2 separate regions of the Homo sapiens genome follow, and region 1 is linked to region 2. Evidence: fine-mapped expression QTL. A gene starts in region 2. The other region holds a variant in brackets. All regions are shown on one strand. Distances are from middle to middle.

Region 1 (8,330 bases), 150 kb after region 2:
AGAGTAGTTTTTGTATGCAGTGAAAGTTATCAGCTGAAAACAGACAGTTATAAGTTGTTTCATATAAGCCCTATGATGATCACAAAAAAATACCTATAGAAGATACACAAAAGAAAAAGAAAAAAGAATAAAAACATATCGATACAAAAATCCATGCAACACAAAGGAAGACAGCAAGATAGGAAAAGAGAGACAAAAGAACTCTGAGAAAGACAAAAGAATTAACAAAATGGCAATATTAGTCTTTCCCTATCAATAATTTATTGAAATGTAAATGAATTAAACTCTCCAATCAAAAGACATGGAGTAGCTGAATGGATTTTCAAAAAACCAACAAGTACTATCTACATACTATCTAGAAGAGACTGACTTTAGATTTAAAGACAATGTATAGGCTGAAAGTGAAGGAATGGGAAAAAAAATATTCCGTACAAATGGTAACCAAAAGACAGCAGGATGGCTGTACTTATATATCAGACAAAATAGTCTTTAAGTCAAAAATTGTCACAAAAGGCAAAGAAGAACATTATATAATAATGAAAAAATTCACCAGGAAGATATAACAATTGCACACATATATGAACCCAACATCAGAGCACCTAATATATATATAACAAACATTGACAGAACCAAAGGGAGAAATGGACAATGCAATAATAGAAGAATTCAGTAACTCACTTTTGATAATGAATAGAACATTCAGATAGAAAATCAACAAGGAAACAACAGATTTGAGCAATACTATAGAACAAATGGACCTAACAAATAACACGTTCTATCCAATGGTAGCAGAATGCATATTCTCCAGTGCATGCGGAACATTGTCCAGGATAGATCATATGTTGGGTCACAAAACAAGTCTTAACGAATTTAAGAGGATTGAAATCATACTAAGTATCTTTTCCTACCACAATGGAATGAAACTAGAAAACTAGAACGGAAATAAGAAAAAAACTGAAAAATACACAAATATGTAGAAATTAAAAAACATTTAAATAATCAATGGGTCAAAGAAGAAATCAAAAAGGAAATTAGAAAATATCTTGAGACAAATGAAAATGAGAACACAACGTATCAAAATTTATGGGATGCAGCAAAAGCAGTACTAAGAGGAAAGTTTTATATATGTATATACATAAACCTATATCTAAACATACACACACGCCTACCATGTACCTACAAAAATTAAAAAATTAAAAAAGATAAAGAACAAACTAAGCTCAAAGTTAGCAGCAGGAAGGATATAATAACACTTTTTGCTCTAAATTTTATTATGATACTTACGATAAAACTTAGAGCAGAAATAAATAAAAATAGAGACTAGAAAAACAATAGCAAAAAATCAATGAAACAGAGTTTTTTTGAAAGACACAGAAAATTTACAAACCTCTAGATAGACTAAGAAAAAAAGAGGAAACACTCAAATAAATAAAATCGAAGATGTGCTTTTCTGCTCCTCTCATGCTGCTTTTGAAATTCAGATGCAGCCTTCTTTAAATGATTTGTATTGTGTTCCACAAATAATCTTTTGGGACTTCTTTCTGAAACATGACTTTGTTTCCCTGCGGAACAAAGGCAAGGTAGAGTGACAGGGAAAAGAAGTGAGGTAGGGAAGGCTATTCTGTGAAGAGTGATTATTGGGCAATAGAGAGGCTCCCTAGGTTATGCAAGAGTCAAAGGGTAACTGGATCCCAGAGGTGATAGAAGCACACTTATCAGAGACAGTGTCTACTTGTAGGGACAACAGAGTAAATCTGCATTCTCATGGGCACTGTGGCTTGTCCTGGAAGCATCTCAGGCTGGCATAGTCATACCTCTAGGAGAGTTAATACTCTAGAAAGAGGAACAAGTCTAGAAATAAGATGATAGAAATTTCCAGAGAATTTGAGAAAAAGCCACCATGGATACAAAGATACCTCTGAGCACCCTTGCTCCAATTTTCGTTTCTTGGTGAGTCTGCAGTATTATGCTTCATATTCATGCTTCAGTGCTGCCATCTGAACTCTCACTGCTCCAGACTGTTTCCAGCATATTTTTTCTTCTAGATATTTCTACTCTTGCTCATCTTTAGAGAGGCTGTTGCTTTAGTACAAGTTGGCAAATTTTTTAATTTTAGGGCTTTGTGGACACTATAGTCTCTGTCACAACTACACAACTCTGCCACTGTAGCACAAAAGCAGCCATATACAATAGCTAAACAAATGGGCATGGCTGTGTTCCATTAAAACTTTATTTACTGCCGGACGCATTGGCTCACGCCTGTAATCCCAGCACTTTGGGAGGCCGAGGCGGGCGGATCACGAGTTCAGGAGTTCAAGAGCAGCCTGGCCAACATGGTGAAACCCCATTTCTGCTAAAAACACAAAAATTAGCCGGGTGTGGTGGCGGGCACCTGTAATCCCAGCTACTCGGGGGGCTGAGGCAGATAATTGCTTGAACCCGGGAGGTGGAGGTTGCAGTGAGCCGAGATCGTGCCACTGCACTCCAGCCTGGGCGACAGAGTGAGACTCTGTCTCAAAAAAAAAAAAACAGAAAACAAACAAACAAAAACTTTATTTACAAAAATTCAGCAGGGTAAACTTGACGTGTGGGCTGCCATTTGCAGATGCCCTCTTTTAGGTATACTCCCATCCATTCCATTGGTTTCCATTTTACTTTCTCATTTCTCAACCATGAACATGCCATTGTTTTCAGTTGCTCCATGTGTTGGCAAGTTCCCTAAACCCCAACGAATAGTAAGGCTCAGGATCATTTCGGCGAATACAGGTTGAGTTTCTGCTATAAAAACAAATTGAATGCTGAAACATGGATGAATGTGGGAGGAAAGAGCTACTTGGAAGAGTAACTCTCAAAGCTCTCTCTCAGAGCTCTCTCTCTGGGGAGAAAGAACAGTGGCGGAAACTCCTGGGTGAGGAATCCCTGATTCCCAAACAACTCCACCCCATGTCCCTGGCTGTCCTCCCCTCTGAGTAATGCAGACAGCCTTTTGGGGCTGTGATGATTCTATCTCCTATGAAGCCATCTGATGAAACTCTGATTTCACCAACCACTAGCACCCAGGAAGAGCCTGGTGTGACATAAGCTGAATGGAATAATTTTATGGGTTGAGGGGGGACTCTTTAGAAGCATCTAACTAGCATATTTTGGAGAAAAATTAGCTGAAGCATTAGGAAAGGAAACTATGCTGTATGCCAAGCCCCCACCCACAATTAATGGTATAAAAGGACTGCAGAGGAAGGAGAGACTCAAACCTGCCCACATCCACCTCCAGCAGCTTACCTGCTTTTCCATTACCTGTTCCAGCACCATGTCTTACAGTTGTTGCCTGCCCAGCCTGGGCTGCCGCACCAGCTGCTCCTCCCGGCCCTGCGTGCCCCCCAGCTGCCACGGCTACACCCTGCCTGGGGCCTGCAACATCCCCGCCAATGTGAGCAACTGCAACTGGTTCTGTGAGGGCTCCTTCAATGGCAGCGAGAAGGAGACTATGCAGTTCCTGAACGACCGCCTGGCCAGCTACCTGGAGAAGGTGCGTCAGCTGGAGCGGGACAACGCGGAGCTGGAGAAACTCATCCAGGAGCGGTCCCAGCAGCAGGAGCCCTTGCTGTGCCCCAGCTACCAGTC[C/G]TACTTCAAGACCATTGAGGAGCTCCAGCAGAAGGTGAGGGGGTTGGCCATATGGGGGGCCAGCAGCAGCTGGCTCTCTTTGAACAGTAAGACATTTTCAAGTTCAAGTGTACCTCATGAGAGAAATTTCTTTTCAGATTCTGTGTGCCAAGGCTGAGAATGCCAGGCTGGTGGTGAACATTGACAATGCCAAGCTGGCCTCTGACGACTTCAGAAGCAAGTATGTTGAACTTCAAGGTCCCTATGGTTCTTTCATGGCCCTAGGGACCTACTATTGCCTGGAAGAGAGGAGAAAGCCATTTCTCTCTATTTCTCCTCCTAGGGCTGGTTATGTAAAATTAGTTTCAAATAGGGAACTAGACTCATGTGCTGCCTGCTCTTTGGTCTATACTGGTTTTTTTTGGAAGTGTTTCTTAAACCACAAAATTCAGAGATTGAAATGAATTGTTCTTTGGGAATTGATTTGGTGGTATATTAGCTAACAAAACCGAGAACACAGTGAGAGACTTCATCTCATGTGTGCCTGTGGGCTCCTCGTGGTGTTAGGTGAGTCAGGGAACCTCTTCAGCCTATCCATGGACAGCTTGACTGAAGCATATGGAAGAGAAGAGGCAGAAAACTGTAAGTTCAAGAAGATTCAGGCCAATTCTACCCAAACAACACATGAGAGGGGAAGGTGGTTTTCTTTCCTGACTTATCCTCCCACTCCGACACGTGCAGGTACCAGACGGAGCAGTCCCTGAGGCTGTTGGTGGAGTCGGACATCAACAGCATACGCAGGATCCTGGATGAGCTGACCCTCTGCAAGTCTGACCTGGAGTCCCAGGTGGAGTCCCTGAGGGAGGAGCTGATCTGCTTGAAGAAGAACCATGAGGAGGTATGAAACAAATTCACAAAAGCAGGCCTCAGAACTAAGCTACTAGCACTGGGAATCAGGAGAGGATTACTGTCTGGATCCCTGGTCTGGGACCCTTCTCTGAGGAACTCAAGATGTTCTCAGAGAGTGACGGTGCTACATCCATATCAAGGAGTGGAGTGAGCTGCTCATTCTTCAGCGGCTGGGTGAGGGTTAGGCAGGTGTTGGAATTACTGAGGAGGGACATCATTCATTGAGCCCTGCTCTCTGCTGATCACTGCTAGGTCCTGAATTTGGTGGTGGAGATGGAGGGACAAAAAAGAAATAAGACATGGCCCTTTTCTTAAAAGAGCTCACAGTCTAGTATAGAAAGACAGTCATATAAACACAGTGATATAAACAAGACAGAGTGAAACAAGTACCATATGAGATGTACAAGCAGTATGCTCTAGAAATAATCCAGGCTGCCCAAGAGGAGATAGGGAACTCTTCTCAGATGCAAAGAGGAGGATTCCAGTACTTGGGTGTTTCAGTCTGAGGGAAGAGGTTGAACAAAGACACAGAAGTGGCAGGGCAGGGTGTATCTGGGTATGGCTGGGCATGCAGTACCTCCAAGGGATGAAAGTGAAGATGTGATGGGAAGCGAGGAAGGACTTGCATATGCCAAGGAGTTTAGACTTAGTCTTGTAGAAGGTGTGAGGTTGTTTCCGTTTCTATGGGACAACAATTGACGTGATCCCTGTTGGAGTTTATTGCTATAAAATGTGTGTGTCACTCTTTGGGAATGATCAGAATCTTCCTTTTAGTGCTTTTTTTTTTTTGACGGAGTCATGCTCTGTCACCAGGCTGGAGTGCAGTGGCGTGATCTAGGCTCACTGTAACATCCGACTCCCTGGTTCAAGTGATTCACTTGCCTCAGCCTCCTGAGTAGCTGGGATTACAGGCACATGCCACCACGCCCAGCTAATTTTTGTATTGTTAGTAGAGATGGGGTTTCACCATGTTGGCTAGGATGGTTTCGATCTCCTGACTTCGTGATCCACCTGCCTCTGCCTCCCAAAGTGCTGGGATTACAGGCTTGAGCCACTGTGCCCGGCCCCTTTTAGTGCTTTCTGGGCAGCATCAAGCTCATTTTCCCAGAGCAGGAAGATGGCACATCTTCCATGGGACAGCAATTGATGTGATCCCTGTTGGAGTTTATTGCTATAAAATGTGTGTGTCACTCTTTGGGAATGATCAGAATATTCCTTTTAGTGCTTTTTGGGCAGTATTGTGCTCATTTCCCTGGAGCAGGAAAATGGCAGATCCATTGCCGTAGGTTCATTGTTTCCCTTTTCTCCAACAGGAGGTTAACACCCTGCGCTCCCAGCTTGGAGACCGCCTCAACGTGGAGGTGGACACTGCCCCCACTGTGGACCTGAACCAGGTCCTGAACGAGACCAGGAGTCAGTATGAGGCTCTGGTGGAAATTAACCGCAGGGAAGTGGAGCAATGGTTCGCCACGCAGGTGGGCATCTAAGCACATGGCCACTCAGGACCCGAGGTGCCCCAGGGCCCTGGAGACAGGGTCTGATCCTTTCCCCACTTGGGTGTTTCAGACCGAGGAGCTGAACAAGCAGGTGGTATCCAGCTCAGAGCAGCTGCAGTCCTGCCAGGCGGAGATCATCGAGCTGAGACGCACAGTCAACGCCCTGGAGATCGAGCTGCAGGCCCAGCACAACCTGGTGTGTATTGTTCAGACCTGCTGGTGAGCGATGGGAACTTGGGAGGCAGAGTCCCGGGGATGTGCTTGGGGCCACACACTCTCCTTAGCTCTTGGAGCTTGTGACTTCCTTGTAATCCTGTGAAGAAACCCTTTGAAGGAGCAGCTCTCTGACATTCCTGATCTTCCCCACCACAGCGAGACTCTCTGGAAAACACGCTGACGGAGAGCGAGGCCCACTACAGCTCCCAGCTGTCCCAGGTGCAGAGCCTGATCACCAACGTGGAGTCTCAGCTGGCAGAGATCCGCTGTGACCTGGAGCGGCAGAACCAGGAGTACCAGGTGCTGCTGGACGTGCGTGCCCGGCTGGAGTGTGAGATCAACACGTACCGGAGCCTCCTGGAGAGTGAGGACTGCAAGTGAGTATGGGGCAAATAATGTCTGGGAAGAATGTGTACAGTGGGATATTGTAGGCACACAAATGGTGGCCATGTTTTCAACTAGTCAGGCAACACACATTAACTGTGTAGCATGTGTCCAGTGATCTGTGATAGCTAAGCAAAGGGAGGCCAAAGGTAAGGGAACAGCCCCTATCTCAGGGGGCTAACAATGGAGGAGTGGTGGCAGGAGCTGGCCAGTTGTAGGAATAACATTTGTGTAAGGCACATTAAGTTCCAGGAGACCTCAAGAGTATGAGATAATATTTTTGAAAAGCACAATTTTTCCACCTCTGCACATGGCATTCTGGGAGAGAGAGAAGGGTTTGGTAGTAATCAGAACTTGATTCTGGCTGGGTGCAATGGCTCATGCCTATAATCCACTTTGGGAGGTTGAGGTGGGTGGATCACTTGAGGTCAGGAGTTCAAGACCAGCCTGGCCAACATGGTGAAACCCCATCGCTACCAAAAATACAAAAAATTAGCCAGGCATGGTGACGCATGCCTGTGATCCTAACTACTTGGGAGGCTGAGGCAGGAGAATCGCTTGAACCTGGGAGGCATAGTGAGCCTTGGCTCCCACTTGCAGTGAGCCAAGATCGCACCACTGCACTCCAGCCTAGGCAACAGAGCAAGACCCTGTCTCAAAAACAAAACAAAACAAAACAAAAAGAACTTGATTCCAACTAACTCCAGCCACTGAGAATTCATAGGTTGTGTCATTAAGCCCAAGGTATTGTGTGCATTAAAACCTCCTCCTAAAGCCATTCTAAACCTCCTTGTCCTCCTAGGCTCCCCTGCAACCCATGCGCCACCACCAATGCTAGTGGCAACTCCTGTGGACCCTGTGGCACCTCTCAAAAGGGTTGCTGTAATTGAAAAGCTTGTATCCTCTTTGAAGACATCTACAAAGCCATTTAGATCAACCACAGGAAGGATCCTCAAGTCCTGACTTTTCTGGAGCTCAGCTGACATCAAGAAACCTCATCTTGCCTCTATGTTATTTCTAGAATGCTGAAAAGCTTTCCTGACCCAAGCAAAGACACACATCATCAACTTCCAATGTCTGGACAACTCCTTCCTGTTGAGGGTCGAGCCTGTTTGTTTCTAAAGATGTTCAGCTCCCTGTAATCTGAGCTCCAGTTACTACTTAAGGTGTTTCCTGAACGTACTACTGCATTTCCTGTTTTCCTTTTTTCTTTGGCATTCTCTGGAATGCAAGGAGGAGACTTCATTTACTTCCCAATAAACTTCATTTCTCTGGCATAATAAATGTTTCTCATTCATATTCATGCATTGTAAATTACTCATCATGGCTGTTTCATAAAAATACCCCTTCATTAGGAGAATAAAATGAAGTAAATGACTGAGCCAAGCCTTTATGCTTCACCAGAAACACTGATGTAGACAGGGAAGGACGTCCTTCTGGGAGACTCCCACCCAGGGTAGGCCATGCAGGAAACCTGGCCTTCAATACCCATGCTTACCTTGCCTTGACTACAGGGCCCTTGGCAATTTTGCAAAGCCTCCCCAGACTTCACTGCTATCTCCAGCTCTCACCCTCATCAGAATAGAATGTTCTGCTTCCCTTTCTCCTAAACTGCCTGAAGAAACTACAGAAACTGCTTCTACAGAAACTGTTCAAAGAGCAGTGATTCTCTCCTCTCAACCTCTCTGCTGCTGCTGCCTTGCTGATATAGATACCTACTCCTCC
Region 2 (8,264 bases):
TCCTTGTGCTGGTGGTCCCTGGGGAAGCGGAGGCCGTTCAGGTAAGGAGCTACTAATTGACAGGACATGCAAGCTCATGAAGTTTTCCACACATTTACCTTTCCTCTCCTCCAGATTATGAACAGAGCCTTCTGCTTTGCTCATGGACACGAGTCTGTCTCCTCTGCTAGGCTCAACTTGGAGGAAACTTGCTTGAATGGCCCACTGACTGACCAAACAAATAATTGTGCATCAGAGCAGGCAGGGCAAGTTGGGATCTTGGCAGATGATACAATGCCTTCCCCAACTTGGTGGCTCTTTCTCCAGGGCAGCAGAAGAAGGCACCTTGATCCCTTTCCCATGAGAGGAGGGCAGCATTAGCAATTGGGACTGTGGCTTGAGGGAGTGAAAGATTTTGGCCCAAATACCCAGTCCACTACTTACTTGTGTGACCTTGGACAAGATATTAACCGTTTTGAGCCTCAATTTTCTTGACTGTTAAATGGGGACAATAATACTTAATTAACATGATTCATTGAGATAATATATTCAGAGTGTTTAGCATGGAGCCTGGCCCAGTAGATGTTGGCTATGATTATCTACTGTATTATTATCACCTTGGTCATCATTATTCTTGTTGTCATTATCACACCATTCCATTCTATCCAAGGACTAGGTCTCTCACCCCCAGCTTCTTTCCTGTGGTCTCCAATGACTATCCCATTTCTCCTGGGATGATGAAAACCCCCCTACCTTTAACCTCTCCACTCTGGGAACCACCTGCATCTGCTGAAGGATAAGAAGCTTCATGTGTATGTCCAAGTGGAGAGGCAGAGGGGGCCTCAGCCTCAGTGTTAGGAGTTAGAAATGAATCCCAGATCTGCCTCAGTTCAGTCGGTTGAATCATCATGCGACCCCAGGAAAGTCACTTTACCTTTCTGAGCATCCTGGGGCTGGACTGGCTTTTTCTGTAATTCATGGGTTATTAATAGATATTTAAAGATTCCATGGTCCAGTGCACTTGGGAAATACTGGTTAAAGAAAGTTAAATAATAACACTTGTAGCCAAAATTATAGTAACAAATACTATATAAAAATAACATTATATAATAATAATAATAATGCTGTTTGAGTGCTATTTGCCAGGTGTGATAAACCTTTTACAAGCACCATTACATTTATCACTTGAAGCAACCCTCTGAAATAGGTATCCTCCTCCTCCTCCTCATCATCATCATCTCTATTTTACAAATGAGGAAATGAGGTTTCCAGGGCTTCTGGTACTGTGCCTTGTGAAACTCCAAAAGAGAGTCAGAGAGAGCAGAGTTTCCGATCTTATTTGACAGGGATCTTTTTTCCTGCAGGGATCTCATAGTGCTGGGGTTCTGTAGAATCCAGTTGGGGAAGGCTGGGCAGGATCCTCCCTGGGATTCCTTTGAGCTCACCATTCCATACCCATCACTTCTGACCCTCTGTACCCCTCTTCTGCAGACCCCAGACCTGAGACTGGAGACATGAACATTGGATGGATGCTCCTCTGACCAGGTTCTGCCCTCCTGAAGCCAGAGGCTGATGGGAGCCTCCTGGTTGTGAGCACTGTTTCCTAAATGGGAGCAGCAGCTTGACCTCCAGTTCCATCTCTGGGTAGGGCAGCCTCTACAGACTGTTCTCCTGAGTCCTTGATGAATCAGAAAGTGCCAAAGGCCACATACCTCATGGCCAGGCACTGTTTCTGGCCAGAGAGAGGGAACAAGGTATTCTCCCTAGCCCAGCCAACAGTTCAGTCTGGGGTTGACTGCCCTTGGCACTGGCATGATAAGATTTTGAGGGAAGGCACCCAAAGGAGTTGTTTTGGGGGCCGAGACTTCCTTGGAAGGGAGAGCAGGGCCTCCGTTACTCTTGGCTGATGGTCAAGAAGCTGGAGGCCAGAATCTGATACTCCTAGCGGTGGACCTTTGGCAAATTACTGCCTCTCACCAAGCCTCTGTTTCCTTATCTGTAAAATGGAGATAAGAATACCTTTTCCACTGGGCTGCTGTGAGGATCCAGTGAGATCTGAAAAGGCTCTAAACTGTGCTACCCTGTAGTCAACTGTCCTTCTGTTTATGGTCTTAGAGTAGGGGGCTGGGACTCCAAGTGCCTCTGAAGGTTAGGGAGCTCAGAACACCTTAATCTTACGAATGGAACTGTTGATTCTATTCTTTGCCCTTTAATACAAAGTCCCTCCCCAGACCCCCCTATCAGGCCAGAAAAACAGAGCTGCCTATTGGGGCTTTGTGTGCATGGCAACTATCTGGCCAATCTCCCTTCCCGCTAACAAGGAGCAGGCCTCCTCATCAGTGCCTGATAAGGGAATGACTCAGAGCTGACCAGTCACAGGGTGCTGGCTTTTATGGCTGGTCTTGGACTCCCCTTTCTCCCTCTTGGGCTCTCCAAAGACCTTCAGTCTTTCTGCAACTGATTCACTAGTTAAACAGCCTCAGACTGGCCTTCCTGAGGGCTCAGAGCGGTTCCTGGTGGGTTAGGGGTGTGTATTTACGGGGTTTCCTGCCCCAGTTCAAGGATGAGTTGGCAGCTAACAGGTAGTTTGCTGGGAACTTAGGTTTCCGAGGCTGGAGACAAGTCTCCACCAGTCACAGGTGACCCAGGTGATAATACACAGAGAAGAGGGCTGAGCTGGGCCACCCCTCTTTTCATGAGGGAAAACTGAGACCCAGAGATGGGCAGGGACTGGCCTGTCTCCCTTAATACCTTCTCAGGAGGGCCTCTGTTCCAAGCCTGGGTGAATGCTTTGCCATAAGGACAAGAAGGAACCATGGGGACAGTTCTGGGGACGGGGGTCACTGGGGACAGGAACTGGGGTGAGGTTGTTGCAGCGCCCTGTAGTGCCTGGCAGGGGGCATGGCCCTCCAAAGAGATCCAAAACGGTGGGTGGAATTGTTGAACAGAGCAAGGGGTGGGGCTGTGTGGGGAGGAAGGCCCTGCCTCTATTGTCAAAACCTTTACCTTGTGCCGGGCACTTTGTGTCGCTCTGCCCAGCTCATTCAAGCACTCATCTTTATACAAGGATGAGGACATGCATTCAGCAGCCCTCTGACAAGGAGGGCAGGGATTCATCCTATGTTTGCCTTTCAGTGGCAGATGCTAAATGCCTCATGGGCAAGTTACTGGCCTCTCCCAGGCTCTGCTTCCTCATTTTGGAAATATTAAAGCAGCCCAATACTCCTGTGGTTGAATGAACGCATGCTTTGGGGGATGGAAGGGAGGGGATCATCCTGGTGGCCAGGGACGAGTGGGCTTTGAGGGTTCCAGAGTGAGGATCAGGCTGGAGCTTAGTGTTGGAAAGGTGTCAGCTGCCAGAACCGCTCCCTGCAGCTGTTCTCAGGAGACTGTTGTCACCTGGGGCACTGAATGGCGACAGCAGGGTGAGGCAGCTTTGTCTTGAGAGGGCTGGGTTCGTGCAGCTCAAAATGCCCGGATGTGCCCTGATCCGGAACTGGTGCCTTTGTCAGAGGGGACAAAAGGGGAGTTGGGCATGGGTGTTCCCAAGAAGCTGGTTCTGAGAGGCTGTAATCTCCAGTGGAGGGCAGGAATCTGTGAATGCACTTTGTGGGGGGCGGGCTGGTTAGGATCGCAAGCAAGGGGCTCTTAACAGGGAGCACTCTGAATGGTTAATCACTGGGGCTGGGCGCAGGGGCTCACGCCTGTAATCCCAGCACTTTGGGCGGCCCAGGCGGGTGGATCACTTGAGGTCAGGAGTTTGAGACCAGCCTGGTCAACATGGTGAAACCCTGTCTCTACTAAAAATACAAAAATTAGCTGGGCGTGGTGGCGCGTGCCTGTAATCCCAGCTACTCCGGAGGCTGAGGCAGGAGAATCGCTTGAACCCGGGAGATGGAGGCTGCAGTGGGCCGAGATCACACCACTGCACTCCAGTCTGGGCGACAGAGACTCGTCTCCAAAAAAACAAAAACAAAATCACTGGGTCAGGGGTGTGTAGGAATATGACCCCAGAGGGACTGTAATTCCCAGTGGTGTCAAACTCTGGGTGATCTTAAAGGGTGAGGCTCAGAATGTGGCTTCCAGGGACAGGGGTGTCCAGGTATGTCCCTGACGGGGGAAAGGCCAGAACAGGGTCTGCAGAGAGAGAGTGGGGGAGTGCGGGTCGGAGCTTCTGCGCGGACCGGGGCGGGGCACCTCTGGAGGGCAGGGGCCTCTGGTCTCTGGGAGGGGAGGGAATTGACCAATGGGGAGAGAGCCCATATTTGCTCTCAGGAGCCTGCAAATTCCTCAGGGCTCAGATATCCGCCCCTGACACCATTCCTCCCTTCCCCCCTCCACCGGCCGCGGGCATAAAAGGCGCCAGGTGAGGGCCTCGCCGCTCCTCCCGCGAATCGCAGCTTCTGAGACCAGGGTTGCTCCGTCCGTGCTCCGCCTCGCCATGACTTCCTACAGCTATCGCCAGTCGTCGGCCACGTCGTCCTTCGGAGGCCTGGGCGGCGGCTCCGTGCGTTTTGGGCCGGGGGTCGCCTTTCGCGCGCCCAGCATTCACGGGGGCTCCGGCGGCCGCGGCGTATCCGTGTCCTCCGCCCGCTTTGTGTCCTCGTCCTCCTCGGGGGCCTACGGCGGCGGCTACGGCGGCGTCCTGACCGCGTCCGACGGGCTGCTGGCGGGCAACGAGAAGCTAACCATGCAGAACCTCAACGACCGCCTGGCCTCCTACCTGGACAAGGTGCGCGCCCTGGAGGCGGCCAACGGCGAGCTAGAGGTGAAGATCCGCGACTGGTACCAGAAGCAGGGGCCTGGGCCCTCCCGCGACTACAGCCACTACTACACGACCATCCAGGACCTGCGGGACAAGGTGGGCGGAGGCCCGGCCGCGGGAAGTGCAGTGCACCTGCCGCGGAAACCCAGCCCCGCGGGCCGGGCGAGGTTCCAGGCGGGGCGGCGGGCAGGAGCCCGTTAGGACGTGGGAAGGTCCACAGGTGGGGCCGAGTAAAGGGGGACAGGAGACGTGCGGGGCAGGACCTCGGGGCTGGATGCAGAGGCCGGGGTGGTGGAAAGGGGAGGAGAACTGGGCAGGGCAGATAAGTGGGTGGGGCCTCTGGAGGTGGCGGGGGCAAGGTTGGAGCCCCGGGACGAAGAAGGGACGCGGGTCAGCGAGGCCTGAAGAGTGGGAGGAGATGGGACCCGGCTGTAGAGTGCCCAGAGGTCTAGGCCAGGGGCCGCGCTGCCGCAGGAAGATGCGAGAGTTTGGCTTTGGTGATCTGGTCCACCCGGGGCCAGTCTTGCCCCCTCTGCCACCGCAGCGTAGGGCCTCCTGCATTCCGTTTCTCTGGCCGGAAGGGTCTAGTGTTCATCCCTCTCAGGCTTTGGCCTCCTCCCACTCTCCCGCCCTGGGGCCCATTCGTTTAGGAAGAATGGGAGAGCCGGTCGTGGCCCCTGGGCGGGGTAAAGGAGGGAGGCTTGGTAAACCTCTGCTGGGGAGGACCCAGTACAGTGGCAGCTCCTTGTCGGGGAAAGAACGGATCTGCGTCACACGCTCTTACAGGGGAACCCTAAGGGGCCTGAGGGGTAGGGCTTGGTCTCCACCCAGAGGGAAGGAGAAATTTTTCGAGTCGTAAAGAAATGTATCAGAAGCCATGGAACATTTACAGCCGCACACGCTGGGTCTCCCAACAAACAGATCCCCAAAATATTTTCCAGTGCTGTACTCGTGGCATAGACCCAGACCCACAGACCAGGAGGAAGCGCTAGAGATGTCAACAGCCAACAAAAACAGTGCTTTACACACTTGTAAAATTGTGACCTACAGGGGCTGGGCACTGTGGCTCACGCCTGTAACCCCAGCACTTTGGGTGGCCAAGGTGGGAGGATTGCTTGAGCCCCAGGAGTTCGAGATCAGCCTGGCAAACATGGTAAAATCCTGTCTCTACTAAAAATACAAAAATTAGCTGGGCGTGGTGGTGCATGCCTGTAATCCCAGCTACCTGGGAGGCTGAGGCAGGAGAATTGCTGGAACCCAAGAGGCGGAGGCTGCAGTGAGCCGAGATTGCGCCATTGCACTTCAGTCTCGGCCACAGAGCGAGAGTCCGTCTCAAAAAAAAAAAAAAAAAAAAAAAAAAAGGAATTAGCTTGGCATGGTGGCGTGTGCCTTGCAGCGAGCTGTACGTGATCAGTGCCACTGCACTCCAGCCTGGGGCAACACAGCGAGACCCTGTATCAAAAAAAAAAAAAAATTGCGACAATAAGTACATTTTACTACGCACCCTTACGCATTCTTTTTCTCACCTCTGTGTGTGTGTGTGCGTGCACATGCACACACACAAATGGGTGACACAATTCTCACCATACTAAGAGAAATCCCCTCTGATATTTTGTAGCCTATTCTGTTGCATTAAAAAACTACACAATCGGCCGGGCGCGGTGGCTCATGCCTGTAATCCCAGCACTTTGGGAGGCGGAGGCGGGCGGATCACGAGGTCAGGAGATCCAGACCATCCTGGCTAACACGGTGAAACCCCGTCTCTACTAAAAATACAAAAAAAAATTAGCTGGGCGTGGTGGAGGGCGCCTGTAGTCCCAGCTACTCAGGAGGCTGAGGCAGGAGAATGGCGTGAACCCGGGAGGCGGGGCTTGCAGTGAGCCGAGATCGCGACGCTGCACTCCAGCCTGGGTGACAGAGCGAGACTCTGTCTCAAAAAAACCCCAAAAAACAAAACCAAAAAACCCCCCCAAAACACAAAACTATACAATCACCACCTGGTGCCTTGACTAATGAGTGATGACCTGCTCTTTGAAAAACAGAACACAATTACCTTATTCAATGATAAGCTGGCTGTTGTGAATGCGCCTCTTAGGTCAGTAAGACCTCAGGTTGGGGTGAACTTGGATGAGGCATCATCCTAAACTTTAGTTTCCACCTCTGTAAGATAGGAGTACCCACTGACCTAGCAGTGAGGTTCCAGAAGCTATAAAAGATGAGATTCAAAGTGCCTGGCACATAATTGATACTCAACAAATGGGATTCTCTTCCCTGGGGGCAAAATATGCTTCGCATAGTGGGGGGGGCAGGTATAGACAAAATCTACCCCCCATCTGGTTTATAGACCCCCTTCAGGCCATTTAGAGTTTCATTGCACACAGGTCTCAGAGATTTCCTCCCCAGGCTTGCCTTCCTGCCCTCCCCCACCCAAGTCCCCCTGGCTCCAGTTTTCTTCCTGCCCCAGCTTCTGGGCATGGACTGTTTGCAAGGCCTCCCAGAGAGCGGGCCAATGGGCGGCAGATGCTGGCTAGGGCTTTGGTCTCTAGGGTGCCGGGGTATATTCATTTGCTCCCCTCTCTCTTCTGGGAAGAAAGTGAGTGGGCAGTGCCTGTGTGTTGAACTGGTACCAACCTCTGCCTCTGCCTTCCAGATTCTTGGTGCCACCATTGAGAACTCCAGGATTGTCCTGCAGATCGACAATGCCCGTCTGGCTGCAGATGACTTCCGAACCAAGTGAGTGTCTCTGTCCTGGGGGCTGCAGAAGCCAGGACTGGGGTAGGGGTTGGGGGGTTTAGAATCTGCCCTCACCTAGCCTAGATGGCCTGAAGCTAACCCCCCTATGGACTCCTGAACTCTGGGGAGGTAGGGAAGTCTTCAGAGATGCTGAGGAAGCTCTGCCTGGCTGCAACTATTTCCTTTGAAAGGTTTGAGACGGAACAGGCTCTGCGCATGAGCGTGGAGGCCGACATCAACGGCCTGCGCAGGGTGCTGGATGAGCTGACCCTGGCCAGGACCGACCTGGAGATGCAGATCGAAGGCCTGAAGGAAGAGCTGGCCTACCTGAAGAAGAACCATGAGGAGGTGGGTTTGAAGCTGGGCCTTTCTTCCATCCTTCCCTAACCTCCCAGGGCTGAAGACTCTTTTATTCTGTATTCTCTGACCGTGGTAACACTTGGTGCACCCTCACCATGGCCCTGGGTGTGGGATCATGGATCCCAGGGTTCCAAGAGGAATCAGTGATGACCCAGTCTGTCCCCCAGTGCTAGTTACTAGGCCTGCACCTGAAAACTAAGCCCCTTTAGCCTGAAGGGTGGGGAAGTGACCTGGGCCAGGCCCAGTGGGGTCTGGGCCCTGACATGCCCATCTCTGCTGTATCTTTACAGGAAATCAGTACGCTGAGGGGCCAAGTGGGAGGCCAGGTCAGTGTGGAGGTGGATTCCGCTCCGGGCACCGATCTCGCCAAGATCCTGAGTGACATGCGAAGCCAATATGAGGTCATGGCCGAGCAGAACCGGAAGGA

Which allele goes with the higher level. Positions count from the first base shown, and alleles are read on the strand shown. Sizes are in standard deviations (SD) of each study's normalised expression.
In carriers of allele C in region 1, the expression in fibroblasts of the gene that starts at base 4,360 in region 2 tends to be lower than with G alone (large effect, 1.2 SD a copy in GTEx).

What was found. PIP is the estimated chance that this variant, and not a neighbour inherited with it, causes the effect.
Region 1: its variant is fine-mapped to the expression of KRT19 in fibroblasts (GTEx, PIP above 0.99).

What each region holds. Positions count from the first base shown.
Region 1 is chr17:41,377,224-41,385,553 of GRCh38, reverse strand. KRT34 (keratin 34) reads left to right here and starts at 3,248. Exons shown (of 7, transcript NM_001386014.1): 1 at 3,248-3,655; 2 at 3,759-3,841; 3 at 4,342-4,498; 4 at 5,823-5,984; 5 at 6,076-6,201; 6 at 6,378-6,598; 7 at 7,408-7,885. The coding sequence starts at 3,308. The coding sequence ends at 7,495. RefSeq lists an enhancer at 3,056-4,255. The variant C/G (reference allele first, on the strand shown) is at 3,622.
Region 2 is chr17:41,524,404-41,532,667 of GRCh38, reverse strand. KRT19 (keratin 19) reads left to right here and starts at 4,360. Exons shown (of 6, transcript NM_002276.5): 1 at 4,360-4,840; 2 at 7,395-7,477; 3 at 7,669-7,825; 4 at 8,128-8,264. The coding sequence starts at 4,421. RefSeq lists a cis regulatory region at 1,812-2,664 and enhancers at 2,370-3,067, 3,068-3,765, 3,766-4,463, 4,464-5,163.